Linked DNA regions of Homo sapiens. The protein of the gene in region 1 interacts with the protein of each later gene in a biochemical or structural test. Each region holds a gene or a part of one and is shown in the gene's direction. Other genes may lie near its edges. The genes, in order: SLC45A4 and PSMD9.

Region 1 (15,917 bases):
AGTGCCCAGCATGAATGGGGCCCCATTGAGGCTTTGCTGAGCCAACGAGGGCTGGCTTCACTCCCACATTTTCCCTGGCTTCTTCTCACTAGAGCCTTGGCAGTGAGGTACTAGCACCCCACTTCACAGGCGAGAAAACTGAGGCTTCAGGAGGCTTATGCAAGCTTTTACAGCCGCATCCTACTCCCAGCCCTCCAGTGATTCCGCCCTGCAGCTTCAGTGTTTACCAAGAATCCGGCCACGGCTCCTCCACTGCCAACACCCTGCCTGCAGCCATCAGCTCCCTGAATTGTCAAGAAGCTTCCCACGTCCTGTGCCCTCCAGCCACCCTCAGCAGCAGCCTGAGCCTTTTTAAAACATCGAGATCCCTGAGTCCCTCCTCTGCTCAGACCCTCCTGGGGTTCCCGTACCCCACTCGGGGGGGCTTTGCTGGCCACCTGCTATCCATAGCAACACCCTCCTTGCTCTGCCCTCTTTGTGTATTTAGTACCACCTGGTCTTCCACTATGTATTTATTGCTATGTCCTTGGATGTAACGCCCTTGAGAGCAGGGACTTTATCCGTTCTGCTTCACACTCCACGGGACCCTGACCACCTGTGCTTCTTCCAGAACGGGAGGATGCATGAATGAATGCATGCGTGCATGAACGCAGGAGTGTGTGAGCCCGTGGGTGAACAGGAAAGCATCAGAACCAGGATGCGCCTCATTTCCACTAGTTTCTCCAGGGTGTGCCGTTTCCTACAGGGCCTCCTCCTAGGGGAGGGCACATTCCTGCACCCACCTGTACCCTAGACAAGATGCAGCTGGGAGCCAGGCCAGTCACGCTCTCTCATTCACTCCTTTCTCGTCCGTTCCTTTGCAAGTTGTGAACTGTGTACCAGGGACCCAGGGACGGACAGGGTGGGCTAGAGCCCACCCACATAGTGCTCACAGTTGAGGGCAGAGGGTCGAAGGCAGCTGGTGCTGGAAGGGGGCTGGCTGGCAGGGCCAGGAGAACTGCAGCAAGGTGGCTGAGGGCAGCCCTACTGTGCCTGATCGTGGGGTAGGGGGTGTCTAACTCCCACTGAGAGATGAAGCTAACTCCTCTGCCCGTTCCCTCTCTTCCTTCAGGCCCTTCCTCAAAGTCCCCTTCAAGGGGGACTCTGCCTGCCCCCTTCCCCGCATTTCCACAGCAGCTATCGCTGGCCGGCTTACTGCATGTCACTTGCTTCCTTGCTCCTTGGCTGTCTCTCAGCTGGGATGCAGATTCCAGGAGGTGTGGCCTCCCTAGCATCTATGTCAGAGTGCCTGGAGCAGAGCAGGTGCTCAGTCAATGTTTAGTGAATGAGTGAATGAACGAATGAATGATTAGAAATCACATAGGCCAGGCTTTGGCACCCAGGTAGGTCTCAGTGAGTATTAACTACTGGTGCAGTGACACCCCAGGTGAGCTCTGGTCCTGCCCTCACCTTTTAGGCCCCCATCTGTAAGGGGAGACCAGAACTGACTCCACAGGGCTGCTCAGAGGCTCCAATGAGACTGTGGACAGGACAAGCACGTTGTAAAGTATAGGCGGTTCTTTAAATGATGATTCAGGACTTAAAGCCTAGGTGGGCCTTATTTTTGCTATGTGCTGGGGGAGGCAGGAATTATTGAGAGCTGGGGTGGTCTGGGAGGGTTTCCTGGAGGAGGACACATGGGACAGGCAGACCCAAGGGAAATGGTGGGCACTACCGGCAGGATGAGCAGTGTAAGCAAACGCAGGAAAAGGGAGAGCCAACCCAGAGGGCTTAGGAGGCTGCTGACTAAGCAGGGGCAGGGGTGGGAGTCCAGAGACGAAGCTGGGCTGAGGACCACGGCCTGGAGGGGATGTCTGGGAGGGAGGCTTACCCTGGGTTCCGCCCTGCCCTGGTGCCATCAGCAGGTGGGGCCTGCCGCAGGGGTCCTGGGTGGGGTGACCCCAGACATCACCTGCCTTTACCCTTCACTGTGAGAAGCCGTGCCAGATGCTCCACCCTGCTGGCCGCCCTGGGTGGCTGCCTCCCTGCTTCCTTTCCAGGTCACCCTGGTCATTTGGTTCATGGCTATGGCTCCAGTGCCAGCCCCTGTACTGGGCCCTGCCCCTCCTCCCCATCCTGACAGGTGGGCTAGAGATGCCAGCAGATGCAGCAACCACTCCACACTCTGACAGTCTAGGAGCCCCTGGCAGGCCCTGTGACCTTGTGGAAGGGGGCACGAGGACTCAGAGCCAGATGGCCTGGGTTCAAACCCTGGCACAGTCACTGACTCGATACGTGACCCTAGGCCAGCTACCTCCCCTCTCTGTGCCTCAGTTTCCTCTTCTAGCAGATGGGGAATCTAATGGCACCCAGCGCAGGGCTGCTGTCAACACGAGATTACTTTGATCAGGCGGGGGCCCAGCTGGCTTTGGAGCCCTGTGGTAACTGATCCGCATCATTATCTGGGCCCTGACCAGCCCAGCTGAACAAGCACTAGCCAGCCACTGCCCCACTAGGCTCTAGATCCAATTTCTCAGCCCCACCCCATATGCCCCACACACGGGCCTCAAGGAGCTCTTTAAGACCCCCATCTGGCCGCTCGAAGACGTCCCCAGGAAAGAGGTCAAGTGCTGAGGCCCTCAAACCTGGACAAAGTCGGTGTCTGATCGTGTTGACTTATTTTACAGGTTTCATTGTGGGATATAAGACAGCTACAGAGAAAGGCATCGCAGAGCTGCAAGCGTGCACATCCTGCTGCCGGGCGGGCGTGGAGCCTGTCCCAGCCCCTCACCCCTCTCGTGCTTCTGAAACCCGGCCTTTGCCCAGGGCGGGCCCATGTGGGGAAGGCCCTTCAGTGAAAACCTGCCTCAGTCTCTTCTGGGGAATCTTCAGGTTCTGCCCAGGCCTGGAGGGCCAGCGTCGTGCTGACGGCCACAGCCAGTCCTGGGCAGCTGCCCTTTCCTGGCACTGTGGTCACTGATGAGCTCTTCCTAGTCAATGACCTCCGCTGGGCCCTGCACTGTCATTTCCTCACATAATCCTCTCATACAGTCCTTTGTGCTAGAGAAACAAAGATTCTGTCCACCTCACTGATGAGGAAACTGAGGCTCAGGGAGGGGATGGGGCTCACCCAGGACACAGAAGCAGTGGAATGGCCTGGATTGCATTGAACTTCCAATGAGACACACCAGTATGGGGAGCCGTGTGGCCCCAGGTGTCCATGTGACCTGGGGTATGACCCCGAGTGGCTAAATCACTCCATCGTCAGGTAGCTGTGTGACTCCTAGCGATTGTGACCGTGGGCAATCGCATGGTTCAGGTAGCCATGAGACCCCAAGAAGCTCACGATCATAGGATGCCACATGGCCCCTTGGTGGCCATATGACACCGGGCAGCCATATGACCCCAGGAAGAGAAGCCGTGGGACCCCAGAAGCCCATTGCTCTGGAGCCAATTCAGGTACCTGGAGGTTCCGACCTGGATTCGTGTCCCGGCCCTGGGGCTGCTCTGAAAGCCCTTGGCTGCCCAGGACACTGGGCAGGCACATGGTCTTTAGGGTCTCGGGTCCCCTCCTGGGCAATTGAGATCCAAGACCTGCGGGTTGTGGACCTACTCACCTGCATCCCAGGGCTTTGGCCCCTACCCTCTGTGGAGCTCACACCCTCTTCATTTTGCCTTGGGGCTCACAGAGATTAGGTATTTTCTCCAAGGTCACACAGTAAGCTAGAACTCTGCTCCTGCGCTCTTAGCCTCACCTAAGCAGAGGCTGCTCCTGGGGAAGGGGCGGAGCAGGCGGAAGGACGCTGGCAGGGTGAGTAGACACAGCCTGAACATCAGCGCCCTAAGCACGAGAGCCAAGCGGGGCAGTGTCTTAGGAACACCTGGTGATACATGAGCGTGCTAATTGACATATTGGGGTTTTGTGAACGAGTTTGTTTAAAAACGTGTTTGTTGCTTTGAAAAGATAAAAGATTTGTGAAGGAGCACAGGAGGTGTCACTAAGGGACTGTCTGGCTGGGACACTGCTTCAGCTCATCCCCTCTCTTTCCTCCCTCTTCAGGGCCCACCTACTTGCCGCCCCCACCCCACCGCTGTGTAGGCTGTGGTCTCTGGAGAGAATCCTGTGCCTCCATTCTCTAAGGAAGCTGGGCAGGGGTTGAGGGCAGCTGGAGCACAGCAGGCCCTTGGTTAAAGGCGGGTTGTTGTTTGAATCATAGTAAAATTGGAGCCAGTTCAGGGAGGGCTTCCATATGTACCACCTCCCTCCCTTTCCTTTCAAACTGGGATCAATGGTTGTTGCTCTCGGACACTTCCTCATGGCAGGAGAGCACCAGGGACACTCCCAGAAGAGAAAATGGCAGATGCAAAGGTCTGGGGATGGGCTCAAAAGGGTGGCACGGACAGTCACCTGGTGTGACAGAGGAGAGAGCCAGGGGAGGGGGGACCTGCCAGGCCTGCCAGGAATGTGGAGCTCCTGGCGCCCGCGGGCTCTACTGGCACCCGCGGGCTCTACTGGCACCCGCATGCCTCACCAGCCCTCTAGCCTCCACCTCCGTGGGGGCTTCCTGCCCGGAAGCCCTCCTGCTTTTCCTAGGAAGAGAGGCTGCTCAGGCAAGTCACGCTACCTCTGAGCCTTGGTTTGTTCGTCTGTGCAATGGAAAGGCTGACAGAGGGCCAGGGAAGCTGAGGGCAGGGGCTGGAGAAGTCTGAGTGGCCTTCATTCCTTCTCCTTCTCTCCTGATTTACCTGTTGTGCGGAGCACCTTCTACCTCTCTCCCATGGCCCAGTGTGTTCTCCACAAGGTCCAAAGAGGGCAGTCTTGTCTTTTCAACCAAGGTAGGAGCTGTCCATACCAGGTCACCAGCTGGCCTCTGGCTCAGAGCAGGTCACAGCCTGTTTGTGGGATGTGGACGTTTTGCACCAAACAGGCTCTTTCCTCTTCATTTACGAGGCACAGAGGAGAGGAAGGGAATGATGCCCAGCAATAGTAAGATGGGTGTGTTCACGGACGTCATTCATTCATTCATTCATTCAATCAGTCAGCCTGTTCACCTAACACCTAACCAGATATGACCCAGGTATAAATCCCGGCTCTATCGCCTACCAGCTGTGCGGCTACAGGTACCAACAACCTGTGTCGCAGCTTCCTCCTCTGCAGGATGACACCCATCTCACAGGAAGGTGTGCACACATGAGCGCTGGGGATGAGAGGGGCCTGGCCCTGCTCCAAGGCATCCCCAGGTGAGGCACGGAGAAGACAAGGTTGGAACCTAAGCAGTGATGGAGGCACCACGCCCTGGACTCGTCCCAGCATCGGGGAGGTTGTCATGCTCACAAAGATGCAGGATTTGCCACAGCATTTGTGGGGCCCTTCTTAAAAGCTGTGAAGCATTTAAAGATGGCAACAGCAGAGCGCTAAGCCAAGCGTGGAGCTATTCTGAGCACTGGGTATGTGTGACTACACAGGTCACACACCCATGACAGCTAAGGGCCCAGGCACGCCTGCTTCAGAGCCAGGCCAGAGTCCGTGTCTTTCTGACCCCTGGGCAAGAGGGCTTCCCCGTATCAAGCTCTCTCCTCACAGGACTGGGGAGCCAGCCATTTAAGGAGGGGGTGGAGTGGGGCAAAGATGTGTGGGGGCCCTGAGGATTCCATTCCCCGGCTTCCATGGGCAGCTGGACAATGGGGCCACAGGCCACTGACACATATCACCCTTCTTGGTGGTGGCAGGTAATATAAGGCCCTGGCCGGGTAGGCTGGGAAGGAGTGCTGCAGGGTGGCCCTGCCACTGCCCTCTTGCATAGGCATGCACACGCACACATGCACACGCACACACACACACATGCACACACGCACATGCAAACATGCACACACATGCACACACGTATGCACACACACATATGCACACACGCATGCACACACACTTGTTGAGGTGCTTGCACAATGGGGATATATTTTTTCTTAACTTTACTCTGGTCTCTGTGTTTAACTCCAGGTTATAGAAGTAAATTAGTTGGGTTTCCACATCTCAGGCTTAGAAACTGCCTTCTAAGTTTCATTCACAAGAAACTTCATGCCTACACTTACATTCTTTTTTTTTTTTTTTGAGACAGGGTCTTGCTCTGTCATCCAGGCTGGAGCACAGTGGTGCAATCATAGCTCACTGTAGCTTTGAACTCCCAGGCTCAAGTGATCCTCCTGCCTCAGCCTTCTGAGGGCTGAGATTACAGGCATGTGCCACCACACCCAGCTAATTTTTGAATTCTTTGTAGAGATGGGGCCTAGCTATGTTGCTAGGCTGGTGCCTATACTTCTATACTTGCATTCAGTTACTCTTTTAGAGGCTTTTTTTTTTTTTTTTTTGAGATGGGGTCTCATTCTATTGCCCAGGCTGGAGCGCAGTGGTGCGATCTCAGCTTACTGCAACCTCTGCCTGCCAGGTTCAAGTGATTCTCCCGCCTCAGCCTCCCAAGTAGCTGGGCCCACAGATGCACACTGCCCCAATCAGCTAATTTTTGTATTTTTAATAGAGATGGGGTTTCGCCATGTTACCCAGGCTGGTCTAGAACTCTTGAGCTCAAGCAATCCACCCACCTCGGCCTCCCAAGGTGCTGGGATTACAGGCATGAGCCACCACCATGCCCAGCCCCAAGAAATACTTATGGAGCACCTACTACAAGGCTGATCCTAGACTGGGCTCCATGGCTACCATGGCTGGTACATACCCCACAATGCACTCCTTAAGAAGAGAGATGGGATCATGTTCCCAGCTCCAGTACTAGGACCCAGCAAAGCGTGTGGCACATAGTAGGCACACACTCAGTAGTTGGTTACTGCATGAATGACAATGAAGACAATTCAATCAATACCAGCAATTTGTGAATAAACAAAGTCTTTACCTGTTCTGTCCTCTTGATTGTATTGTCATTTTAAAAAGCATCATTTTGCTATTTTGTTTAAGCTTCAGGACAACTTGTGAACTAGGTACTATTAGAATGCTCACTTATAGAAGAGGACTCAGGGAGGTTAAGTAGGCGCCCAGGCTCACACAGTTGGCTCACAGCACACCTGGAATTGCCGCTGCCTCTATCCTTTGGCCATTGAAAGAAAAATCACCAGGGAAGCAGATGTACAGTTTGAGCACTCATGATGTGTCTGATGCTGCTTTGGACTGTCTACAGACCATTGATGTACTTACTAACCCTCTGTTGAGATACTGCATACACATGGAAAAACACACACGTCTTTTTTTTTTTTTAATAGAGATAGGGTCTTACCATGTTGCTCAGGCTGGTCTCAAACTCCTGGGCTCAAGCAATCCACCCGCTTTGGCCTTCCAAAGTGTTAGAATTACAGGCGTGAATCACCGTGCCCCACAGGCACATGCATCTTGACTGCACAGCTGGAAAAGTCATCATAAACTGAGCACACTGTAACCAGCACTCAGACCAAGACACAGAACACAGCCAGCCCCCAGACACGTCCTCTGTGCCCTGCTTCCTGGCTCTGGCACCCCTCCCTCCAAGGGTAACCACTATCCTGACTGCTACCCCCATATACACCTTCTACCACTTTATCCACATGGAAACAAATATGGCTTTTTATCCTCTGGCTTCTTTTCCTCAACATCATTTGTGAGAGTCATCCATGTTGTTGTGTGTAGTTGATTATTCACTGTCATTGCTGTCATTCCACTGTGTGAATATATCACAATTTATGTATCCATTTAACGGCTGATGAGCATTTCAGTAGTTTCCAGTTTGGGGCAATTATAAACACTGCTGCTATCAACAGAAACACAATGTTAGGTGTGTATCTAGGAGCAGAATTGCTGGGTAATCAAGGCCTTTCAAAAAGATTTTGAAAGTTGTACCACTTTGCATGTCCACCAACAGTGTCTGGCAGTTCCAGTTGCTCCATTTCCTTGTCAACACTTGATATGGTCAGATTTTCCCATTTCCGATGCTCTTGGAGGCTCTGCTCTGCACTTCACTTCTAAATTCCTTTAGCAACAGGTGAGATGGATCTTACGATTTCTATTTTACAGATGAGGACGCCAAGGTTCTGAGAAATGAAGTAATTCCTCCAAAGCAACTTAAACCCTGGCAAGGGTGCAGGGCTGCGACGTTAACAGGGTTGGCCTCAGCCCATCACATCTGTCTGTTAAAGCCGCCTCCCCAGACCTTGTCTTGATGGGGTTTCCCAGCAGTCCTGCCCTAGGGATTGTGGCCCTTCTACACGTGGGGAGAGACGGATCAGTGTCCCTGGCCAGGGCCAAGCCTGAGAGGGAGGCCCAGCCTCCAGGAAGCTCCGGGTCGGGTCTTCGTCCTGCCCCGCTCTCCAGGTTGGAGAGGGGACCCGCAGAGCGCGGGGCGTTGGGGGAGTTGGGGACGGGGGCGTGGTCCGGGACCAGGTAGGAGGTCTTCGGAGGGTGGCAGGGAGGGGAAAACAGGAGAGTTTTCTCCTGCAGCGGAGGAGGGGCTGCAGCACCTGGATGGGGCCCATGTCGCCGCGCCACGGGCAGGGGCGGAGGGGGCGGGAGGGTGCTTGCCAAGGGGCTGGGCTGCCGGGGGCCGGGGCCTCGTGGCTAGCCGGACCCCTCTGCGACAGAGTGGCGAGAGGAGCGGGGAGAGAAGGTGGGGACAGGCGGGGGCCACCTCCTGCGGCTGCAGAGAGGGATGGGGTGGATTGCGGGCCAGCGCTTTAGGGGAGAGAGGGCGGACGCTCGGTGCGGAGGGGCCGGGGCCGGGGCCGGGGCCGGGGGCGTAGCGGGAGGAGGGCGGGGGCGGGGCTGGATTATGGCTGGGGGCGGGGCCATGGCGAGACGGGGGCGGGAGCCACGGTGCGCGCGGGGGCGGGGCAGGGGCGCGGCGGGGGCGGGGCGGCCGTTCGGGGGCGGGGTGGGCGGCAGCGGAGGCCAATGAGCGCGCGCGGCGCAGACCCCGCCCCCCGAATCCCCGTCCCGCGGCGGCGGGTGCTGCATAGTCATGAGGCGCAGGGGCCGGCGCTGCGTCAGCGGAAGCGGCGCGGAGCGGCTGTTTCCGACCCGATAAAGCGGCGTTGTCTCCGCGCGCCGGCCGCAGCCTCGCAGCGCTCTCTCCGCGCCCGCGTCGCTGACTGACCGCCCGGCCGGCCGGCCGAGGGAGCAGCCCCCGCCCGGACCCGCAGCCGCCTCCCGACCCCGGTGCGCCCGGGGCTCCGCGCCCCCGTAGCCCCTGCCCGGCCCGGCCCGGCCGCCCCGCCGCCCCCGCGGCCCCGGCCGGAGGAGACAGGTGAGTGGCCTGCCGCCCGCAGCCGCCTGCCCCGCCGCCCCCTGCACCTCGCACCTGGGCGCCGGGCACCTGCAGCCTCCCCACCCCCACCTCCCGCACAGCCTCGGCCTCCAGGTCGGGTCCGCGCCGCAGCCCCAGCCCCGCACCTTCTCCGGGGGAGGGGACGTGCCCCCACCCGGCTTGCGCTGGCTCCTCAGGGCCCCCCAATTCCTTCCCGCCTCCTCTTTCCGGATTGCACCTGCCCTGGTCCCCAGCCCTGCAGCCTCCCTCATTCCCCCCACCCCGGCCCCCACCCCGGGGCGCGCGCCTTCATTTGGACCCGGCCCGCTTTCGCACCCATCAGTCCTCCCCGCCCCCAGTTCCTCGGTTTCTCTACCCAGAGAGGAGCCTGGCGCCTCTAACTCCTGGTCCTGACCCTGTCTTGTCCTTCTAACCCCTGCCTGCTATCTCTAACTTATGAGAATTCAACCAGCGATACACCACTCGCGAAGTGGCCCCCTCTCCCCTCTGTCTGGACCGGTCCTCCCAACCGAACACACTCCCTTCTTCCCCTTCTTCCCCTTCCCTTCTTCCCCTCCTTTCCCTCTGCCCAGTGCACACACGACCCTGGCAGCACTGCTAGCCAGTGTCCCCCGCCTCGGACCCCCAGCCTGCACCGCCAGACTGTGGCTCTGCCCCGGTCTCATCGGCACTGCGCTCCCTTGTGTCCCTTTGAAGATACCTTGATTTCCTGAGACCGACCTTGTCCCTGGAGGAAAGAGGCCAGGGCATCAGTTCATCCGGGCCCAGATTCCCTGCTCTGTAGAAGTCCCCGCACCTTCTGCGTCTCAGCACCCGCTGCCCCTTTCCCCTTTGCGCTTAACCCGTTCCTCCCCCAGGTATCCTGCTCTGGATTGGAGCACTTCCAGCAGCGGCTTTTCCAGCGGAGGCGGATCCACACGGGGCCCAGCCTCCTGGTTAGCTATTCAGAATGATTCTAGAAGGCGGGGGCTAGGGAGGGCTGGGAAGGGCCGCTTGACCTCCTAAGGAGCCTGAGGTGTTTGTGTCTCTCCAGTGCGGGTCACTGATGGAGTGTGGCTTCAGGTTCACAGACCTAGCCACTGACCCCCATCTGATACCTCAGCTGACTCCAGCAAAACAGGGCTTGTCGTTTTTATTACTGTTTTGGGGGCTGTCTTTTCCAGTCTATGACCCGGAGCGAGGAGGGTTTACCAGATGAGTGATTGAACTAATTGTTGTGGGGTCAGATGATTCTTGTGGGCTGGTAGATTCTGAATCGAAGCCCATTTCTGCTGGGGAAAAGCCACTGCATCTGCCCAGCATTACTGAGAGCGCCCTGCGCTTCCATTCCCCAGACGGTCTCATCCTTCCTGTGTCATTGGCAGACAGGTAGAATGTGGTAGGAATCTTATCCTTCTGTTATTTTGTGCTGGCTTTAGGAAAAAATAAGAAAACAAAAAGCTGGAGTATTGGTGTACAGGTTAGGGAGTGTAACACATGGGGATCAGAGCAGGTAACACACACTGTCCTTAAAAGAAATGTATAGTGTCCTCACTTTTCTGCTAGGTTTGAATTATTGTTAAAAGAACGAGCAGAGATTATTTAAATGCTTGGGAGAGGTTTTGCAGAAGCCACTTGATGAGAAGAGGCAGCCCTGCAGGTTCCGGGTGGAGGAGACTCAGGCGCAGTAAAGAACTCATGTGTTTCTAGAGAGAGGCTGGGGAACTAGGTCGTCTTACACATCAAGGATTTCACACCCGTTCAGGCTAATTGTTTTTGTGGCAGTGGCTGTAAAGGAAAGAAGCAAATCGTTTGAAATGTGTTTGAAATACACACTGGGTATTTAAAGGTGTGTTTTTTTGGCCCAGGTGTTCACAGGGCGGGGAGTGGGGAGGCTGCCCAGGGCCACCTCCCGGGCCTCGTGGGGGGAGTGGCCTGCTGCCCTGCCGAGATGCGTGCTGCAGCTTTGGCCCTTGTCGCATCGTGAAAGCAGATCAGAGATTGGACTGGGTGAGCTCCAAGGTGTGTGTCTTGCAGCTTGTAACACCCTCTAACTTTGCTTATTGGAGGGGGGTGGGGGAGGGGCGGAGCAAGCCTGTAAACCGGATTCTGCCTCCTTTCCGTGAGCTCTGAGATCCCGCCCCAGCCCGCCCCGCAGATCTGCAGGGAAGGAGAGGGCTGCGGCAGCGGCAGCTCCCCACTTTCCCGATGGAGGAAAGGAGCCGAGGAAGGTATTTCAGCCAATCTTGAGGTTGCTTGGTGGTGAATGGATTGTATCTGTGTTGTCAGGAGAGAGGTGGGGAGGACAGAGGAGTGCAGCGCAGGGGTTCGGGCTGTGATTGTCGTTCTGACCGTGGTGCATCCCAGTGCCCTCTCCCGCTCTTCCCGAGGGTCCTGACGCCCAGTGGCTGGCTGGGGTGGTTTGTGACCAACAGCCTTGTGGCCTGGCACCGAGTGAGGGTGACTGACAAGCACTGTAGGTGGCAGACAACCCCAAATTGCCAGTGCCCTTCTTGGGAACACCCCTGGCAGAGTCGTGTCTGTAATTTGTGGAGGCAGAATATGCTGGAAGCCGCGTTCCTGCTAATGATGGGTGAGGACTGTTCCTCGCTGGCCTCCTAGGTTCCCCAGGTTTTCATCACTGCGTGATTATGCTGACGAAGGCGCACTTAGTGAAACACCATCAGAAGGGTTGTCTCCACCTGAGCCAGGAAACAGATTTGACCAGAGGGAGCAAACCTCCCAGCCGAAGAGCAGCCTTGTAGAAAGGAAGGGGTGAGAGGACCCCAAAAGCAGGCGTCTGCAGTGGGTTTTCATGCAGAGGACCTGAGCGGCTGCACCTCCCCCACCGGCTCCTAGACAAGGTCCCCTTGTTTAGATTAGCTTAATTACCCCACCAAAATCAATGAACAAGGATCTTTTTAAATGTGAAACTTTCAAAATGTGCTTCTAGTGGCCTTTTCCCCCGAGTATCAAATGCTAAGCTTTTGTGAAATCAGGCACTTTCAGAGGACCGGGAGACCTCTTTAATGTTCGTGGAAATGAATCTTCTCTACCCTGAATCAGGAGAGGGCCTGCCGAAAGGGAAGCTTAACAGGTCATATTGTCATTTTCAACCCCTTGCCATTTGGGTGGAGGTGACAGGAGAAACAGCATAGTGTTTACGAAGTGGCCTCCTTGGCAAGTGACTTTTGGAGGAGGCATTTTAAGAAGATTAAAAACATCCACAGACTTAGAGGGCAGCCGCATAACCCACTTAGTGTTTCATATCCCTGATAGAGTGGCCCTTTGAGAGCCGTGGATGGGTTGCTGTTGTTCCCACCTCAGACGACGTGGGTGTTATTGCCCCAGGAAGACGGGACACTTGGTAGGGGTCATTTGTTGAGTGCGACTGGTTAGATTGCGGGAAATAGCACAAAACCCTGATGATGGAGAGAAGGGCTCTGAGTTCTCTTTGGCTCAGCTGCTGTGTAGCTTGGGGACTTCAGGTGAGAGGGAGAGGAAGTTCTCTCTCTCCCCCCCTTTTTTTTTTTTTTTTTGAGACAGTCTTACTCTGTCACCCAGGCTGGAGTGCAGTGGTGCGATCTTGGTTCACTGCAGCATCCACCTCCCAGGTTCAAGCGATTCTTTTGCCTCCGCCTCCCGAATAGCTAGGACTACAGGTGCACATCACCATGCCCAGATAATTTTTGTATTTTTAGTAGAAATGGGGTTTCACCATGTTGGCCAGGCTGGTCTTGAACTCCTGACCTCAAGTGATCTGCCTGCCTGGGCCTCCCGAAGTGCTGGCATTATAGTCTCTCTCCTTTGCGTGTGTGTGTGTGTGTATTTAAGAGTCAGGGGGTCTCACTGTGTTGCCCAAGCAGGTCTTGAACCCCTAGGCTCAAGTGATCCTCCTGCCCCAGCTTCCCAAGTAGCTGCTGGGTTATAGGTTCATACTACCGCAGCTGGTGGGATTTCTCTTAAGTTAGAGGGGCTGGGCTGTAGCTGCATTATTTTGAGGGTCATCCCAAGGCCCACCTTCCTGTCTAGTGAGGGCTCCAGAACACAAGTTCACTCTCAGAGTCTGTCGGGAGCCGCGGGGGGGAATAGTGCTGGGCATTTTGTCCCCAGTGCAGGAATAAGGGTGCCAGCCAGTCCAGAGTGGGATCCTGAGGCAGCTGAAGGGATTTGCGTAACCTTTCAAGTCATTGAGCTTGGCCATCTCACCCTCCCACCTCTACTGGGCCCAGGCCCCAGTGAGGGAGGTATTGTTCAGACCTGGGTCTCGGTACTTTCATCCTCCTAAACCTGTTGAAGGATTTTGCTGGCAGTGAGAGGAAACTGCATTCCTGAACTCTGGCCCAGAGGTGCTTAATTTGCTGCATTGAAAAGTCCCTTCCAACCTGGGGTTCTGTTATGCTACTTGCTCTGAGTTTTTGTAGTTTGCCCCAAGGTTTCTCTTGGGGTTCTGCCTTGAAATCCTGGAGCCATCTGAATTGACTGGCAACCAAATTTTTCCTATTTCAAAGAAAGGAAAATCTTGAGTGAAAAATGCATAGCAAACCCTTAGAATAGATAATAAAGAGGGATCAACACAGTGCTTACCTGGTCAGGTGTGGTGGTCATTATACTTTTATATATGACCCTTATTGCACAATTTTAGGAAATCACTCAGGCTGGGCACAGAGGCTCGTTCCTGCAATCCCAGCACTCTTGGAGGCTGAGGCAGGAGGATCGCTTGAGTCCAGGAGTTCCAGGCCAGCCTGAGCAACACGGCAAAACCCCACCTGTCCAAAAAAAAAAAAAAAACAAAAATTAGCCGGGCACGATGGCACGTGCCTATAGTCCCAGCACTTTAGGCGGCTGAGGCGGGCAGATTGCCTGAGCCCAGGAGTTTGAGACCAGCATGGACAACATGGCAAAACCCTGTCTCTATAAATACAAAAAAATTAGCCGGATGCGGTGTCTCACATCAGTGGTCCCAACTACTCGAGAGGCTGAGGCGGGAGGATTGCTGGAGCTCAGGAGGTCCAGGCTGCAGTGAGGGGAGATCACACCCACACTGCACTCCAGCTGGGGCAACAGAGTGAGACCCTGTCTCAAAAAAAAAAAAAAAAAAAGACATTGTAAGGCCAGAAAACAAGAAAATAAGAAAAAACAGAAAATAAGTTCCTTATCACCAACAATGTAGTCATCATTTTAGGGAAATACATTTATTCAAGAGCATGGTTTTTGGTTTGGTGTATATGGGAAGGGAATATTTTGTAAGTTTTTTGAGGGGAGGGGTTTGACATCTCCACGCTGGAGATGAAATCGCATATTAAGAGCATGTTAGACACGAGGCGAGGGGGACTGCCTGAGTATCGTAGAGGCAGCTTTTTCACTGTCAGTGATGAATGAATTAGGAATGTTTTAGAGTTACATTGCTGTCAAGCAAAGGCCTGAAAACATTTTTGCTTATGTGTTCTGTAAAATAACTTTACGCCTGCCGCGGTGGCTCATGCCTGTAATCCTAGCTCTTTGGGAGGCCAAGGTGAGTGGATCACCTGACGTCAGGAGTTCGAGACCAGCCTGGCCAACATGGCAAAACCATCTCTACTAAAAATACAAAAATTAGCCAAGTGTGGTGGTGCACGCCTATAATCCCAGCTACTTAGGAGGCTAAAGCACAAGAATGGCTTGAACCTGGGGGCAGGGGTGGGGTCGGGGGGAGGGAGGGCAGCGGGGATGGGGGTGGTGGTGGTGGTGGTGGTGATGGTGAGTGGCGTGGAGGTTGCAGTGAGCCAAGATTGCGCCACTTCACTCCAGCCTGAGCGAAAGAGCAAGCCTCTGTCTCCATCTAAAAAACAAAAAAAACTTTGAAAAACTATAGACACATTTTTAAGTTGATGTTTAAATTTTTGGTCCTAATTTGAAACAACTGCAAAAGATGCAATTTCTAGTATAATGTTGGCATTTAAAAGTAACCATTGTATTGCTTTTTAAAAAGTATCCAATGTTAAATATCCTAATGATACCTACCATCAGTCACCCTTTTAAAAAATGAACAAATTGTTCTTAACAGTCTTGACAAGGCAGTTTTTTTCTTTGTGAACTTGTATGTTTGCTCCATTTGAAAGTCTTTTCATCCCTCATTCTTTTTTTTCTTTTTTGAGACAGTGTTTCCCTCTGTCACCCAGGCTGGAGTGCAGTGGTGGGATCAGGGCTCGCTACAGCCTTGACCACCTAGGTCTATGCAATTCTCTCTCTCCAGCCTCCTGAGTAGCTGGGACCACAGGTGTATGCTATCATGCCCAGCTAGTTTTTATTTTTATTTTTTGCAGAGATGGGGTCTCACTGAGTTGCCCAGGATTTTTTTTTTTTTTTTTTTTTTTTTTTTGAGATAGGGTCTCATTCTGTCCCCCAGGCTGGAGTCCAGTGGTGAGATCATGGCTCACTGCAGCCTCGACCTCCCCGGCTCAAGTGATCCTCCCACCTCCACCCTCCAGGTAGCTGGGCTTATGCCCAGCTAATTTTTCTTTGTATTTTTGGCAGAGACAGAGTTTCACCATGTTGCCCAGGCCGGTCATGAACTCCTGGCCTCAAGCGACCCTCCCTCCTGCCTCAGGCTCCCAGAGTGCTGAGATTACAGGCATGAGCCACTGCACCCGACCTATGGACTGTTCTCCATACTTCTCTGTGACA
Region 2 (16,191 bases), on another chromosome or scaffold:
TTAATAAGTATCTTATTACTATTTTATGTTTTGTAGAGACAGAGTCTTGTCATGTTGCCCAGGCTAGTCTCAAACTTCTGGCCTCAAGTGATTCTCCTGCATTGGCCTTCCAACATGCTAGGATTACAGACATGAGCCACCATGCCAGGCAGTATCTTATTATTGTTATTATTTTCAAGGGTCTCAATCTGTCACCCAGGCTGGTGTGCAGTGGCGTGACCTCAGCTCACTGCAACCACTGCCTCCCAGGCTCAAGCAATCCCCCCACATCAGCCTCCCAAGTAGCTGGGACTACAAGTGTGTCCCACCACGCCAGGCTAATTTTTTGTATTTTTAGTAGTAGGATTTCGCCATGTTGGCCAGGCTGGTCTCGAACTCCTGACCTCAGGTGATCTGCCCACCTTGGCCTCCCAGTGTTGGGATTACAGGCGTGAGCCAACGTGCACAACCCAGTATCTTATTTTTAAAAATTACTTTCTGCTCTGCTCCACGCTCTGCCCAGGTACTAAATATTAACACCCTCACAGGTATAACTGCTTCCCTTTTTCCATTCTATGGGGGAGTTGACTTTACTGAATAAAAATAGGATGATTTACTATGTGGGTCTCTGCATCTTACTTTTCCAAATGCTTAATTATTGGCAACTGTGGTGGATATTCCTTTAGCCCCTCCAAATCTCTTCCCTCCCTGCCCTTCTCTGTGCCCCAAGCCTTATCACCTTCAGCCAACCTGAGACCCTGGCAGGAAAGGAGAGGAGAGACAAGTGGGGGTATCTCTTCCTTGGCTTCCTCCCTGCCAGACGTTGTTTTAGCAGCTGTTTTAGCAGCAGCTATGTCCCTGTACTGAAGGCCACACTCCTGTTGGGTGACTACAACTCTCTCTAGGTTTCCAAACCCTCCCTTCTCTTGCCCCTTTAGGCTTAAGGGGTGGGGTAAGAGACCCCATGCTCACCAGCCCCAGGTGGCTTCATTATCCTTATCTGCTCCCATGACTTTGTTTTTTTGTTTGTTTGTTTGTTTTGTTTTGAGATGGAGTCTTGCTCTGTCGCCAGTCTGGAGTGCAGTGGTGCGATCTTGGCTCGTTGCAAACTCCGCCTCCCGGGTTCAAGCGATTCTCCTGCCTCAGCCTCCCAACTAGCTGGGACTATAGGCATGTGCCACCATGCTCAGCTAATTTTTTGTATTTTTAATAGAGACAGGGTTTCACCATGTTGGCCAGGATGGTCTTGATCTCCTGACCTCATGATCCGCCCACCTCAGCCTCCCAAACTATTGGGATTACAGGCGTGAGCCACCGCGCCCAACCTAATTTTCGTATTTTCATTAGAGATGGGGTTTCACCATGTTCGCCAGGCTGGTCTTGAACTCCTGACCTCAGGTGATCCTCCCGCCTAGGCCTCTCAAAGTGCTGGGATTACAGGCATGAGCCACTGTGCTGGCCTGATTAAGCAACTAATTTACAATTCTTAAAAACTTTTAGGGGGCCAACTCATGAGCGAGCCTGCCACCTTTATGGCTGTCAGAGTCCAGACCCTTGTTTTATAGATTCAGGAAACGAGGGGAGGATTTGTCGTTTGTAGGATTCCTGGGCCAGAGTGAGGTGAAACATGGAAAGTGTGGTGGTCCTCAAGTCAGGCAGTATGAATTCTGACCAACCAGGTCTCGCCAGGGATCTCTAGTTCCCTGGCTCTATTTCCCATGTGTTTGTCTCTTGGCCTACCTCTCGTTCTGAAATGAAGATGAGCAAGATGTGAAAGCTTGAGAGAGGCAACTGAAGTTCTCCTAGATCTTGGCAGCTTTCTAAAACAAAGGTTTTGCTGGGCTGTCTGTGGCCACTGCAGGGAAGATGAAACAGAACAACTGGAAAGGGGAAAGACAGCTCTCTCAGACTGTTCCCTTGCAATCCTCAAACAGTCCAACATTTGAAGATAAACAAGCCTCAGTCCACATTCTCTAAGAATCTCCAGTGCATGGGACAGACAGGTAAACATGCATTTACAATACCAAGTGAAAAGTGCAGAAAACAGCCCAGCTGTGGGGTGGGACACATAATGATTTCCAGGGAGGTAGTATTTCTTTTTCTTTTTGTTTTTGAGAGGGATCTTTTTCTTTTTGTTTTTGAGAGGGAGTCTTGCTCTGTTGCCCAGGCTGGAGTACAGTGGTGTAATCTCAGCTCACTGCAACCTCTGCCTCCCAGCTTCTCCTGCCTCAGCCTCCTGAGTAGCTGGGATTACAGGCACCTGCCACCAAACCCAACTAATCTATTTTAGTAGAGATGGGGTTTCACCATGTTGGCCAGGCTGGTCTTGAACTACCGACCTCAAGTGAGCCACCCGCCTCGGCCTCCCAAAGTGCTGGGATTACAGGTGTGAGCCACCTCACCCAGCCTTGAGCTGGATCTTGAAGGAGAGGTTCAAGTCAGCCTGGCCTGAGATGGTGTTCCAGGGTGGGAAGAGCAGGTGCTAAGACCCAGTGCTAAGAGAGACTGAGCAAAAAACGTGCCAGAAACTGTTAGAAGTTCAGCATGGCTGGAGCATAAGTTGTGTGTGTGTGTGTGTGTGTGTGTGTGTGTGTGTGTGTGTGTGTGTGTGTGTGTGGTGGGGTACAGGGATGGGAGGTGGTCTAAAGGCAAGCAGAGATCAGGAGTCTTAAAGGCCAAGAGAAGGGCACTGAAGCCATTAAGCAGTAGCGTGCCAATGTCACTCTTGGGAAGGTTGTTCTGGCTGCTTTGGAGACTGGGTTAAAGTGCGCAACCTGAGACAGTTCAAAGACTGCCCAATCAGGAGGAAGAGGTGGCGGGGTAGGAGTAGAGGTGGAGGAGATGGGTGGATTTGGGAGCTATGAAGGCAGTCACAGGATAGAGGTTTATTATAATGACAGCAATATTGACAAGCTCATAATGTAGTAACCTAACAACAGCTCTCTTTTCAGACCGCATGGGTAAGAATCTTCTCCTCACCCTTTTTATTTGGAAAAATTTCAAACCTCAGAAGAACTGCAAGATAGTTCCCCCACACAACCAACTTTTCCTTTTCCTTCTTTCTTTTTTTTTTTTTTTTGATAGAAACTGGGTCTTGCCACGTTGCTCAGGCTGGTCTCAAATTCCTAGGATCAGGGGATCCTCCCACTTCTGCCTCCCAAAGTGCTAGGATTATAGCCATGAGCTGCCTACAAAAGTTTCCTTGAACATGCATATACTCTTCATGTGGATTTGCTAATTGTTACATTTTGCCTCTTTCTCCCCTTGTATCATTTTCTTTGAACCACTTGCAAGTTAGTAGCTGAAACCATGACGCTACACATCTAAATATTTGAGCATTTATCTCCTTACCATAAAAAGAGTTTCTTTCACATAATTGCAACATCATTATCTGACTGAGGAAACTTAACACTGATATACTATAATTTAATATAAAGTTCATATTTAGATTTCATCAATTGGCCCAGTAAGTCTTTTAAAGCCGCTGTTTCTCATTAATAATTCAAGTAAGGATCATGTATTGCATTTAGTCATCGTTTCTCTTTTCCTCTCTTTTTTTTTTTTTTTTTGAGACGGAGTTTCGCTCTGTCGCCCAGGCTGGAGTGCAGTGGCATGATCGCCGCTCACTGCAACCTCTGCCTCAAGCAATTCCCCGGCCTCAGCCTCCCAAGTAGCTGGGATTACAGGTGTGTGCCGCTGTGCCCGGCTGATTTTTGTATTTTTACTAGAGATGGGGTTTTACTATGTTGGCCAGGCTGGTCTCAAACCCCTGACCTTATGTGATCCACCCACTTCGGCCACCCAAAATGCCGGGATTACGGGCGTGAACCATCATGCCTGGTCCTCCGCTAATTAATTTTTTTTTTTGTAGAGACGTAAGTCTTGCTATATTGCCCAGGCTGGTCTTAAACTCCTGGACTCAAGGGATCCTCCTGCCTTGATCTCCCAGAGATATAGGACTACAGACATGAGCCACTGCACCTGTATCTCTCTCTCTCTCTCTTTTGACAATGTTAGAAATGTTAGTTTATTTTTCTACCTTTTCTCTTTTTTTCTTCTTTCTGTTTAAAGTTTGTTTTAAAATTTTATCTTGAAGTGGTTTTAAACTCACAGAAAAGTTCCAAAAATATTATAAAGAACATTTATATGTTTCACCAATTATTTACATTTTGTAAATGTAAATAATTTACATTTACAAATAATTTACAGAGTCACCAATTATTAACATTTTGCCGTATTTACTTTATCTCTCTCTTGTCTACAAATATATATCTCTTTCTTTTTCTTGAGACGGAGTCTCACTATATGGTCCAGGCTGGAGTGCAGTGGCACGATCTCGGCTCACTACAACCTCCACCTCCCAGGTTCAAGCGATTCTCTCCTGCCTCAGTCTCCCGAGTAGCTGGGATTACAGGTGCCTGCCACCACGCCCAGCTGATTTTTGTATTTTTAGTAGAGACGGGGTTTCACCATGTTGGTCAGGCTAATCTCAAACTCCTGACCTCAAGTGATCCACCCCCCTCAGCCTCCCAAAGTGCTGAGATTACAGGCGTGAGCCACCATGCCCGGCCTTACATATATATCTGTATTTTTTTTTTTTTTAGATGAAGTCTTGCTCTGTCGCCAGGCTGTAGTGCAGTAGCACCATCTCGGCTCATTGTAACCTCTGCCTCCCGGATTCAAGTGATCCTCCTGACTCAATCTCCCGAGTAGCTGTGACTACAGGCATGAGTCACCACGTCCAGCTAATTTTTGTATTTTTGGTGGAGACAGAGTTTCACCATGTTGGCCAGGATGGTCTCCATCTCTTGACCTTGTGATCCGCCCACCTCGGTGTCCCAAAGTGCTGGGATTACAGGTGTGAGCCACCACGCCCGGCCTATATCTGTATTCTTTTCTGAACCATTTGAAAGTAAATTGCCTCTCTTAACCCTAAATACTACAGGGTACTTTTTCTAAGGGCACTGTCTTACAAAACCACAGTGAAAGTATCAAAATCAGGAAATTTTCAGATATCAAGGGTGGGAGGATATTACAATTTTTTTAAAAATCAGGAAATTTGGCCAGGTGCGGTGGCTCACGCCTGTAATCCCAGCACATTGGGAGGCTAAGGCGGGTGGATTGCCTGAGGTCAGGAGTTCTAGACCAGTCTGGCCAACATGGTGAAACCTTGTCTCTACTAAAAATACAAAAAAATTAGCCGAGCATGGTGGCATACGCCTGTAATCCCAGCTACTCGGGAGGCAGGGGAATTGCTTGAACCAGGGAGGTGGACGTTGCAGTGAGCCGAGATCTCGCCACTGCACTCCAGCCTGGGCAACAGAGCCACCACGCCCGGATAATTTTTGTATTTTTAGTAGGGACAAGGTTTCAGCATGTTGGCCAGGCTGGTCTTGAACTCCTGACCTCAGGTGATCCAGCCGCCTCGGTCTCCCAAAATGCTGAGATAACAGGCGTAAGCCACCGCACCTGGCCACATATTGCATTTAGTTTTTTTTTTTTTTTTTGAGATGGGGTCTCACTCTCTCGCCCGGGCTGGAGTGCAGTGGCACGATCTCTGCTCACTGCAAGCTCTGTCTCCCAGGTTCATGCCATTCTCCTGCCTCAGCCTCCTGAGTAGCTGGGACTACAGGCACGTGCCACCATGCCCGGCTAAATTTTTGTATTTTTAGTAGAGATGGAGTTTCACCGTGTTAGCCAGGATGGTCTCGATCTCCTAACCTCATGATCCACCTGGCTTGGCCTCCCAAAGTGCTGGGATTACAGGCGTGAGCCACCGCGCCTGGCCTAGTTTTTTTTTTTTTTTTTTTTTTGAGACGGAGTCTTGCTCTGCCGCTCAGGCAGTGAGCCACCTGCCCTGGCCTCCCAAAATGCTAGGATTATAGCCATAAGCAGCTTACAAAACAGTTTTCTTGAACATGCTTATACTCTTCACGTGGATTTGCTAATTGTTACATTTTGCCTCTTTCTCCCCTTGTATCACTTTCTTCGGACCACTTGCAAGTTAGTAGCAGAAATCATGACACTACACATCTAAATAATTGAGCATTTATCTCGTTCCAATAAAGATAAAAGTGATTCTCTCATATAATTGCAACACCATTATCTGACTGAGGAAATTTAACACTGATATACTATAATTTAATATAAAGTTCATATTTAGATTTCACCAGTTGGCCCAATAAGTCTTGTAAAGCTGCTGTTTCTCATTAAATAATTCAAGTAAGGATCATGTATTGCATTTAGTCATTATTTCTCTCTTCCTCCCTTTTTAACTTTATTATTTATTTATTTATTTGAGACAGAGTCTCACTCGGTCACTCAGGCTGGAGTGCAGTGACATGATCTCAGCTCATTGCAACCTCTGCCTCCCCGGTTCAAGCGATTCTCCTGCGTCAGCCTCCCAGGTAGCTGGGATTACAAGTGTGTGGCACTGTGCCTTGGTAACTTTTGTATTTTTAGTAGAGACGGTGTTTCACCATGTTGGCCAGGCTGGTCTTGAACTCCTGACCTCAAGTGATCCACCCACCTCAGCCTCCCAAAGTGCTGGGATTACAGGTGTGAATCACCACACCTGGTCCTCTGCTAATTAATTATTATTTTTTTTTTTTTGTAGAGATGGAGGTCTTGCTATGTTGCCCAGGCTAGTCTCAAACTCCTGGACCTAAGGGATCCTCCTGCCTTGATCTCCCAGCATAATGGGACTACAGGTATGAGCCACTGCACCTGTATTTCTCTCTCTCTCTCTCTCGATAATGTTAGAAATGTTAGTTTATTTTTGAGGGGTGCGGTAGCTCACTCCTGTAATCCCAGCACTTTGAAAGGCCGAGCTGGGCTGGATCACTTGAGGCCAGGGGTTCGAGACCTCAGCCTCCTGAGTACCTGGGATTACAGGTGTGTGCCACCACACCCGGCTAATATTTTATATTTTTGGTAGAGACAGGGTTTCACCATGTTGGCGAGGCTAGTCTCAAACTCCTGACCTCAAATGATCTGCTTGCCACAGCCTCCCAAAGTGCTGGGATTATAGGCATGAGCCACCACACCTGGCCCATTGCATTTAGTTGATGCACATCTTTAGTGTTCTTAAATCTAGGCAATTGCATATCCGCCTCCTTTCTCTGTCCCCCACCCCTTATTCCCCATGTGTATTTCACAACATTGACTTTTTTTGAAGTTTTCAGGCCAGTTGTTTTGAAGTATGTCCCTTCTTTTGGATATGTCTGTTTTCCAATGATTAGATTCAGGGCAAACATGTTTGAATACTACACAGATGACCGCTGAGCCCTTTTCAAGACAAAATATTAGAGGCACATGGTCAGATATCAAAGTTGATTGTTTAGGTAAGCTGGGTTGGAATTTTGGCCTCACATTTTGCTAGTTGGGTAAATTGGTTATTGAGACGGTTTTCTCAGCTGTCAAATTGGGATGTAATAATCTAGCTTCATGAGGTTGTTGAATTAATATATGTAAGGCATTTAGAACAGCGTCTGGCACATTATAAGTATCAATAAATAAACACTGTTACCGTTATTATTATCACTACGATTTTTAGAGGCCTTAACAGGAACATCCAGCACCTTCAACAGTATATGGCTCATAGGAATCATTCCATGAATATTTGTTAGCAGAAGGACAGCTCTATGAGATAGATTGCTATCAATTACTGCCCCATTTTACAGATGAGGAAACTGAGGCCCAGAGAAGCCAAGTAGTGACCTAGGGTCACACAGATTGCCGTTAAGTGGCAAGATACGGGGTGTGTACTCAGGCATATCGGATCTGTAAAGTGAGGGATAAGGAACCTTAATGTATTTTGTAAATCCTCCAGGGCTGTGTGGATGTGAAGAACTGAATTGGAGCGCCACGCAGCGGTTCTCTGGCGTACAGTATCCATCCATACAGTAGGCGCTCAATAAATGTCTGCTGCACGAATGAGAAAATGAGTCAGCTGGGGCGAGATCATCCCCTAGCGTTGGTGTGCAATTGCGTGGGGATCCATTGCTTCCGACGCTACTCCTGCCGGGTCACCACAGGCGCACGTGTTCCGGCAGGGCGCGGCTTCCGGTGACCCAGCTCCGCCCTAAGCCCCATCCCAAGCCCCGCCCCTTGACTGTTCTCGCGTTCGCGGACGGCTGTGGTGTTTTGGCGCATGGGCGGAGCCGTAGTTACGGTCGACTGGGGCGTCGTCCCTAGCCCGGGAGCCGGGTCTCTGGAGTCGCGGCCCGGGGTTCACGATGTCCGACGAGGAAGCGAGGCAGAGCGGAGGCTCCTCGCAGGCCGGCGTCGTGACTGTCAGCGACGTCCAGGAGCTGATGCGGCGCAAGGAGGAGATAGAAGCGCAGATCAAGGCCAACTATGACGTGCTGGAAAGCGTGAGTGTGGGTTCGGGGCGCCCCAAGTCGCCTAACCCGGCCCGGAGTCCCTGGGGTACTGGGATGCCAGGGCGGCCTCAGTTTGGGCGCTCCGCAACGGATCTCCCTGGGAGGCCCAAGGCGCCGCAAGTGCGGCCTCTGTCGGCACAAGAAGGCAGGCAAAGAACTTTAGCAACTGAAGAGTTAGCCATATTGATATCCAGCAAGAGTTTGTGGAGCCCTGCTGTGTGCTAGGCGCTGGTTTAAGTGCTGTGCATTGTTGAGTTAATTTAATCTTTGCAACAACCCTTTGAGGTGGATGCTGTTACTCTTTCCATTTTAGGGAGGGGGAAACAGGTGTTACTTGGTGATTAAACAGCTGTCATGTGCCTCGCTGACTGCCTTATCTTAATTTTGTACTTTTTGTAAAGACAGAGTCTCACTGTGTTGCCCAGGTTGGTATCGAACTCATGGCCTCAAGCGATCCTTCCACCTCGGCCTTTCAAAGTGCTGGGATTACAGGCGTGAGCTACTGCACCCGGCATTTGCTGATTGTATCGTGAATTCTTAAACTTCAGTGTGTATATGAATTACCTGGGGATCTTATTAAAATGCAGATTTTGTTTGAGGCAAGGGAGCAGATTCTGCATTTGTAGCAAACTCCCAGCAATGCTGATGCTAGTGGTCTAAGGACCGAACTTTGAGTTACAAATAAGGCTCATCATCCTTATTGCATAAGGAGGAAACTGAGGCCCAGAGTGGGGCAAACGCCTATCTAAGGTCATGTAGTTCGGAAGTGGCAGTGGTGGGTCTGGCTCAAAAGCTGATGCAGGTTTTCTTATGCCATCTAGTGTAAAATCACAGATCAGTTTGCAGAGGAAGATGCAATTAATTATGCCCAAGTAGGGTGGGATGGAATGCATTTTAGGTGATGTAAGATGAAGTTTCTTTTTTTTTTGTCTGAGACGGAGTCTTGCTTTGTCACCCAGGCTGGAGTGCAGTGGCTCAATCTCGGCTCACTGCAGCCTCTGCCTCCTGGGTTCAAGTGATTCTCCTGCCTCAGCCTCCCGAGTAGTAGGGATTACAGGCGAGCGCCAGTACGCCAGGCTAATTTTTTATTTTAAGTAAAAGCAGGGTTTCACCATGTTGGTCAGGCCGGTGTTGGATTCCTGACCTCAGGTGATCCGCCCACCTTGGCCTCCCCAAGTGCTGGGATTACAGGCGTGAGCCACCGCGTCCGGCCATAAGATGAAGTTTCATACGGAGGGCCAGAGAACCATTTTACTGGGTGCTGACTATATGCTCAAAGTGGGATTCAGACTTCAGGTCTGTTACATTCAGAACCTGTGCTTTCAAGCAAATTACCAGCAATTTCTCAAACTTTAGTTTACTTTCTACCACATGCAGTATACTATATGCATATACCACTTGTGTTATTCCTTTGATATTTTTATTTAAATAGATCTACTTTTAATCTTATATAAATGTATTATTATTGTTATTATTATTATTGAGACAGGGTCTCGCTCTGTTGCCCAGGCTGGAGTTCAGTGGCACCATCTTGGTTCACTGCAGCCTCAATCTCCTGGTGTCAAGCAATCCTCCCACCTCAGCCTCCCAAGTAGCTGAGACTGCAGGTACGTGCCACCACGCCCAGCTAATTTTTGTATTTTTTGTAGCTATGGGGTCTCACTATGTTGCTTGCTCAGACTGGTCTGAAACTCCTGGGCTCAAGCAGTCCTCCTGCCTCTGCCTCCCAAAGTGTTGGGGTTACAGGCATGAGCCACAGTGCCTTGCCCATAAATGTATTTTAAAAGGAAATTTCAAAACTCCGCTGCATATGGAAAATGATAATCTCTTCTCTTAAATATAAGGTCAGATGCTTTGCATGTTGATACGGCATGTTGGTTGCTTCTGGCTAGCTGCTGTTGCTTGCTGAAAGCTTTCAGCCTGAAACCGTGCTCTATATTTGTTTTTAAAAAGTGGGTTTGGGCCGGGCCTGGTGGCTCACGCCTGTAATCCCAGCACTTTGGGAGGCCAAGGTGGGTGGATCACCTGAGGCCAGGATGGTCTCGATCTCCTGACCTCGTGATCCGCCCGCCTCGGCCTCCCAAAGTGCTGGGATTACAGGCTTGAGCCACCGCGCCAGGCCTACAAAAAATTTTTTTAAAAATTAGTTGGGCGTGGTGGTGCATGCCTGTAGTCCTAGCTACTTGGGAGGCTGAGGCAGGAGGATTGCTTGAACCCTGAATGTTGAGGCTGCAGGGAGCTATAATTGCACCACTGCACTCTCTTGTGGGTGACAGAGTGAGATGCTGTCTCTTTAAAAAAAAAAAAAAAAAAAAGGCCGGGTGCGGTGGCTCATGCCTCTAATCCCAGCACTTTGGGAGGCCGAGGCGGGCGGATCACGAGGTCAGGAGATCGAGACCATCCTGGCTAACACAGTGAAACCCCGTCTCTACTAAAAATACAAAAAATTAGCTGGACGTGGTGGCCAGCGCCTGTAGTCCCAGCTACTCTGGAGGCTGAGGCAGGAGAATGGCCTGAACCCGGGATGTGGAGCTTGCAGTGAGCCAAGATTGCGCCACTGCACTTCAGCCTGGGTGACAGAGCGAGACTCCGTCTCAAGAAAAAAGAAAAAAAAAAAAAAGACTGGGCATGGTGGCTCACGTCTGTAATCCCAGCACTTTGGAAGGCCGAGGTGTGTGGATCGCTTGAGGTCAGGAGTCCGAGACCAGCCTGGCCAACATGGTGAAACCCCGTCTCAACGAAAAATACAAAAATTAGCCAGGTGTGGTGGTACACATCTATAATCCCAGCTACCCGGGAGGCTGATGCAAGAGAATCACTTGAACCTGGGAGGCGGAGGTTGCAGTGAACCAAGACTGCACCACGACACTCCAGCCTGGGTGACAGAGATTCCATCTCAAAAAAAAAAAAAAAAAAAAAAAGAAGTGGACAGCTAAAACTATAAATCTCGTATAATAAAGCATAGGAGTAAATCTTCATGACCTTGGATTAGGCAAAGCCTTTTTAGATATGGCACCAAAAACACAAGCTACAAAAGAAAAAATGATAAGTTGGACTTCAACTTTAAAACTGTGTTTCAAAGGGCATAGTAAAATGAAAAGATAAGCTCCAGAATGGGAGAAAATATTTGCATATCATTTCTCTGATAAGAGGATAGTATCTAGACTATAATAAGAGCTCTTACAACTCAATAATAAAAAGACAGCCAATTAGAAGACAGGGAAAGGATCTGAATAAACATTTCTCCAAAGAAAATATGGTCAATACAAATGGTCAATGGCCAGGCGTGGTGGCTCATGCCTGTAATCCCAGGACTTTGGGAGTCTGAGGCAGGAGGATCACTTGAGGCCAGGGGTTTGAGACTAGCCTGGGCAACACAGTAAGAGCCTATCTTTACAAAAAATTCAAAATTAAAGGCCGGGCATGGTGGCTCATGCCTGTAATCCCAGCACTTTGGGAGGCCGAGGCTGGCAGATCACGAGGTCAGGAGATCGAGACCATCCTGGTTAACACGGTGAAACCCCGTCTCTACTAAAAATACAAAAAAATTAGCCGGGTGTGGTGGCAGACGCCTGTAGTCCCAGCTACTCGGGAGGCTGAGGCAGGAGAAGGGCCTGAACCCAGGAGGCGGAGCTTGCAGTGAGCCAAGATCTCGCCACTGTACTCTAGCCTGGGCAACAGAGCGAGACTCTGTCTTTAAAAAAAAAAAATTAAAAATTAAAAATTAGCCAGGTGTGATGACATGTGCCTGTGGTCCCAGCTACTTAGGAGGCTGAGACAGATCGCTTGAACCCAGGAGTTTAAGGCGGCAGTGAGCTATGAACACACCACTGCACCCGATCCTGGGCAACAGAAGATCTTGTCTCAAACCAATACAAACACAAAAGCCATTACCTTTTACACTTTACATGGGTCAGTTATATGGTATCTGAATTATATCTCAATAAAACTGTTATAAAAACAGAGGGTACTAGAGATAGCAAGTAACTGGGGTGTTGCAGAGACCAGCACCAAATGGACACTTTTGCCTTGACAATTGCAGGATTGTAGAGAATTGGGAGAGGAATATGTATTTTTGATTCAGGGTTATTTAATGCCGTGTGTGTGAGCTGCTAGTGTTATGGATCCCATCCTTTGAGAAGCATTATCCAATGTGATATTGATTCTCAAAGGCTGGTCAACCCTTAACCACTGTGGGAAGGCAGGAGCAGATACAGGTTTTTAGCCCCTGGCGCATTTCTGCAGTGTCACGGCGAGTCCTGTGTTAGGGGAGTGTGGAGAACTATCTCCCTGCGCAGTGGACAGTAGGTTTGGGTGTAACCCGGAGGCTTCCAGAGAGAAAGGGAGCAAAATGAATGGAATCCCTCTTCTCAGTGCCTGTGTACACTGGCAGCTTGTCCCTGGACTGACTAATCCTTACAGCCACTATTTATGACTTCTGCGCGTAGTCGTTTTCTGAGGCCACCTTAACACCACAGAGTTGGTGACTTAAAACAGGAATTTACTTTGTCCCAGCTCTGGAGGCCAGAAGTCTGAAATCAAGGTGTCAGCAGGGTTGGCTCCTTCTGCAGGCTCTGAGAGAGAAGCTCCCAAGCCTTTCTCCTGGCCTCTGGTGACTGCTGGCGGTCCTTGGCCTACAGCTGTGTCACTTGAACCTCTGCCTGCATCTTCATGTGGCCTTCCTCCTGTGTCTGTCCCACACCTACCTCTGCCTTTCTTTTATGAGGACACCAGCCACCAGATGAGCTTATCTCGAGATCCTTAACATAATTACATCTACAAAGACTCTTTTTCAAATAAAGTCATATTTACAGGTTCTGGGGGTTAGCTCGTGGTTATCTGTTTTTGGGGGCCGCTCTTCAACCCACTATGCTGTGTATGCGCGTGGCATGTGCTAAGTACTCTGCAGGTCAGCTCGTTAGTTCTTGCAGCAGGTAGGGAGGGAGGCGAGTGCTCCTATTCCCATTTTATAATTGAGGAAGCTGAGGCTTAGAGAGGAGAAGGTCTCAGCTAAGGATGCCCAGCTTGTACATGGCAGAGTTGAGATTCAAATTAAAGTCTAACCAATTGCAAAGCCCCTCCCCTGAACCATGTGACTGGTTTCACTGCTTTTGTGTACTCTCCTCTGACTCATGTTAAAAAAAAAAAAAGTGTTGTTTTGAATAAAGAATACATTCCCATAGGCAAAATTCAAAACCTACAGAGGGGTATAAAATGGACTGTCTCTCTCCCTGCCCTGTCACCTAGCCACCCAGTTCTTCTCCCCGGAGGCAGCTGGTGCTATCAGTTTCCTTCTTCAGATCTTTTTATTTTCAGAAGAATCAAAGCCCTGCCACAGCTGGGTGCTGTCTGGGCTTTTCACTCCCCTCTAGCTTCCAGGGCCAGCAGCCAGGTGTCAGCCACCTGTGGGAAGGAGGGTGTGAAGGAGTGGAGGAAGAGGCTGGCCTTGGGGATGATGCTCAAAGGAGTCTTTGGTTTTATCGGCACTGTTTTAACTTCAAAAAAGAATGGATTCATGCATTACTTGCGTCGTTAAAAATAAAAAATGAAAAACACAGTGCCCACCCCAGGGTAGTTGTGAGGGCATGAGTAGAGCCCCTGGTGTAAGTGATCAGTATGTGGCAGTTTTCATTACTGTCACCTTTATTATGACTTCAGAGGAGAAGGGTCTGGGGAAAGACATCCTGGGGACATTACACCCATGAGCACCTTTTAACCACGTTTCTTTCCTCCAGCAAAAAGGCATTGGGATGAACGAGCCGCTGGTGGACTGTGAGGGCTACCCCCGGTCAGACGTGGACCTGTACCAAGTCCGCACCGCCAGGCACAACATCATATGTGAGTGGCCCTCTTAGAAGACTTTCCCCACCTTGTGGTGGGAAGGTGTTAAAGGCATACAAATAAAACCAACTATCTGTATTATCTACTGCCTTCTCTTCTGCCTTGATGGGATTGTCTTGTCCCCATCCAAGGACTGAGAACCAAGGGAATGGGCTAGACTCTAAGGTTCTATATTTCTGGTTTCATTTTCTCTCTCTCTCTCTCTCTCTTTTTTTTTTGAGTCAGGGTCTTGCTCTGTCTTCCAGGCTGGAGTGCAGTGGTGCTAACATGACTCACTGCAGTCTCAACCCCCCAGGCTCCAAGTGCTCCTTCTGCCTCAGCCTCCCAAGTAGCTGGGACTATAGGCATGTGTCGCTGTGCCTGGCTAATTTTTTTTAGTAGAGACGAGTCTCACTAAGTGGCCCAGGTGAGTCTTGAACTCCTGGACTCAAGTGGTCCTCCTGCCTTGGCCTTCCAAGGTGCTGATTGTTTTTAATTAAAGAGCTAGCAGAGAGTACAGATTGGATAGTATATTTGTTTTCTGTTTCTGCCATAACAAATGACGTGATTTGTTTTTAATTAAAGAGCTAGCAGAGAGTACAGATTGGATAGTATATTTGTTTCTGTTTCTGCCATAACAAATGACCACAGACTTAGTAGCTGGAGATAAGAAGTCCAGATGGGTCTCACTGGACTAAAATCAAGGTGTTGGCAGGGCTGGCTCCTTCTGGAGGATCTAGGGGAGAACCTGTTCCTGGTCTTTTCTGGTTTCCAAAGGCTGCCCACCGTCCTTGGCTCATGGCTTCGTCCATCTACACAGCCAGCAGTCGCATTTCCCTCCCTCTGATTCTGTCATAACATCTCTTTCTCTCACTCTCCTGCCTCCCTCTTTCACCTATAAAGACCTCTGTGATGACACCAGGCCCACCTGGATAATCCAGGATCATGTCCGAATCTTAAGGTCCTTAATCACATCTGCAGAGCCTCTTTTGCCATGTAAGGTGGCATATTCCCAGCTTCTAGGGGCTAGGATGTGGATGTGTTGGGGGCCATTATCCACTCAGCCATAGGTAGGCAACCGTCTCCACCACAGAGTCCTATTAGCATTTATCCTCCACATTTTTCACTTACTAACTCCTCTTTAATCTGTTTGAATCTTGATTCCATCTGCATCACATCTTATTTATTTATTTATTTTTTGAGACGGAGTCTCGCTCTGTCACCCAGGTTGGAGTGCAGTGGCACGATCTTGGCTCACTGCAACTTCCACCTCCCGAGTGACAGAGCAAGAGACCGTCTCAAAAAAAAAAAAAAAATCTGTTTGAGCAATTCCTTATTGGTCTTTTTTTGAAAAATCTGTTCTCGGCCGGGTGCGGTGGCTCATGCCTGTAATCCCAGCACTTTGGGAAGCCAAGGCGGGCAGATCACCTGAGGTCAGGAGTTTGAGTCTAGCCTGACCAACATGGCAAAATCCTGTCTGTACTAAAAATAGAAAAATTAACTGGATGTGGTGGCACATGCCTGTAATTCCAGCTACTTGGGAGGCTGAGACAGGAGAATCACTTGAACCCAGGAGGCAGAGGTTGCAAAGAGCCGAGATTACACCACTGCACTCCACCCTGGGCGACAGAGCAAACAAAACTCTGTCTCAAAAAAAAGAAAGAAAATCTATTCTCAAAACAGCCCTTTTTAAAGAACAGTTATAGATTTACATAAAAATTGGAAAATAATGGCTGGGTGCGGTGGCTCACGCCTGTAATCCCAGCACACTGGGAGGCCGAGGTGGGCAGATCACCTGAGGTCGGGAGTTCGAGACCAGCCTGACCAACATGGAGAAACCCTGTCTCTACTAAAAATACAAAATTAGCTGGGCATGGTGGCACGAACCTGTAATCCCAGCTACTCAGGAGGTTGAGGCAGGAGAATCACTTGAACCCAGGAGGCGGAGGTTGCCGTGAGCCGAGATTGTGCCATTGCACTCCAGCCTGGGCAACAAGAGTGAAACTCT

The links.
Region 2: the proteins of SLC45A4 (region 1) and PSMD9 form a complex in vitro, tested with the Homo sapiens proteins (one study listed by IntAct).

Annotation. Positions count from the first base shown.
Region 1 is NC_000008.11:141,301,430-141,317,346, reverse strand, and holds the start of SLC45A4 (solute carrier family 45 member 4), read left to right. Parts: upstream 1-9,058; 5' UTR 9,059-9,251; intron 9,252-9,454; exon of another isoform or gene 9,455-10,207; intron 10,208-11,395; exon of another isoform or gene 11,396-11,482; intron 11,483-15,835; exon of another isoform or gene 15,836-15,917. UniProt on the Homo sapiens protein: Proton-associated sucrose transporter. May be able to transport also glucose and fructose.
Region 2 is NC_000012.12:121,880,641-121,896,831, forward strand, and holds the start of PSMD9 (26S proteasome non-ATPase regulatory subunit 9), read left to right. Parts: upstream 1-8,149; 5' UTR 8,150-8,216; coding exon 8,217-8,354; intron 8,355-14,098; coding exon 14,099-14,201; intron 14,202-16,191. UniProt on the Homo sapiens protein: Acts as a chaperone during the assembly of the 26S proteasome, specifically of the base subcomplex of the PA700/19S regulatory complex (RC).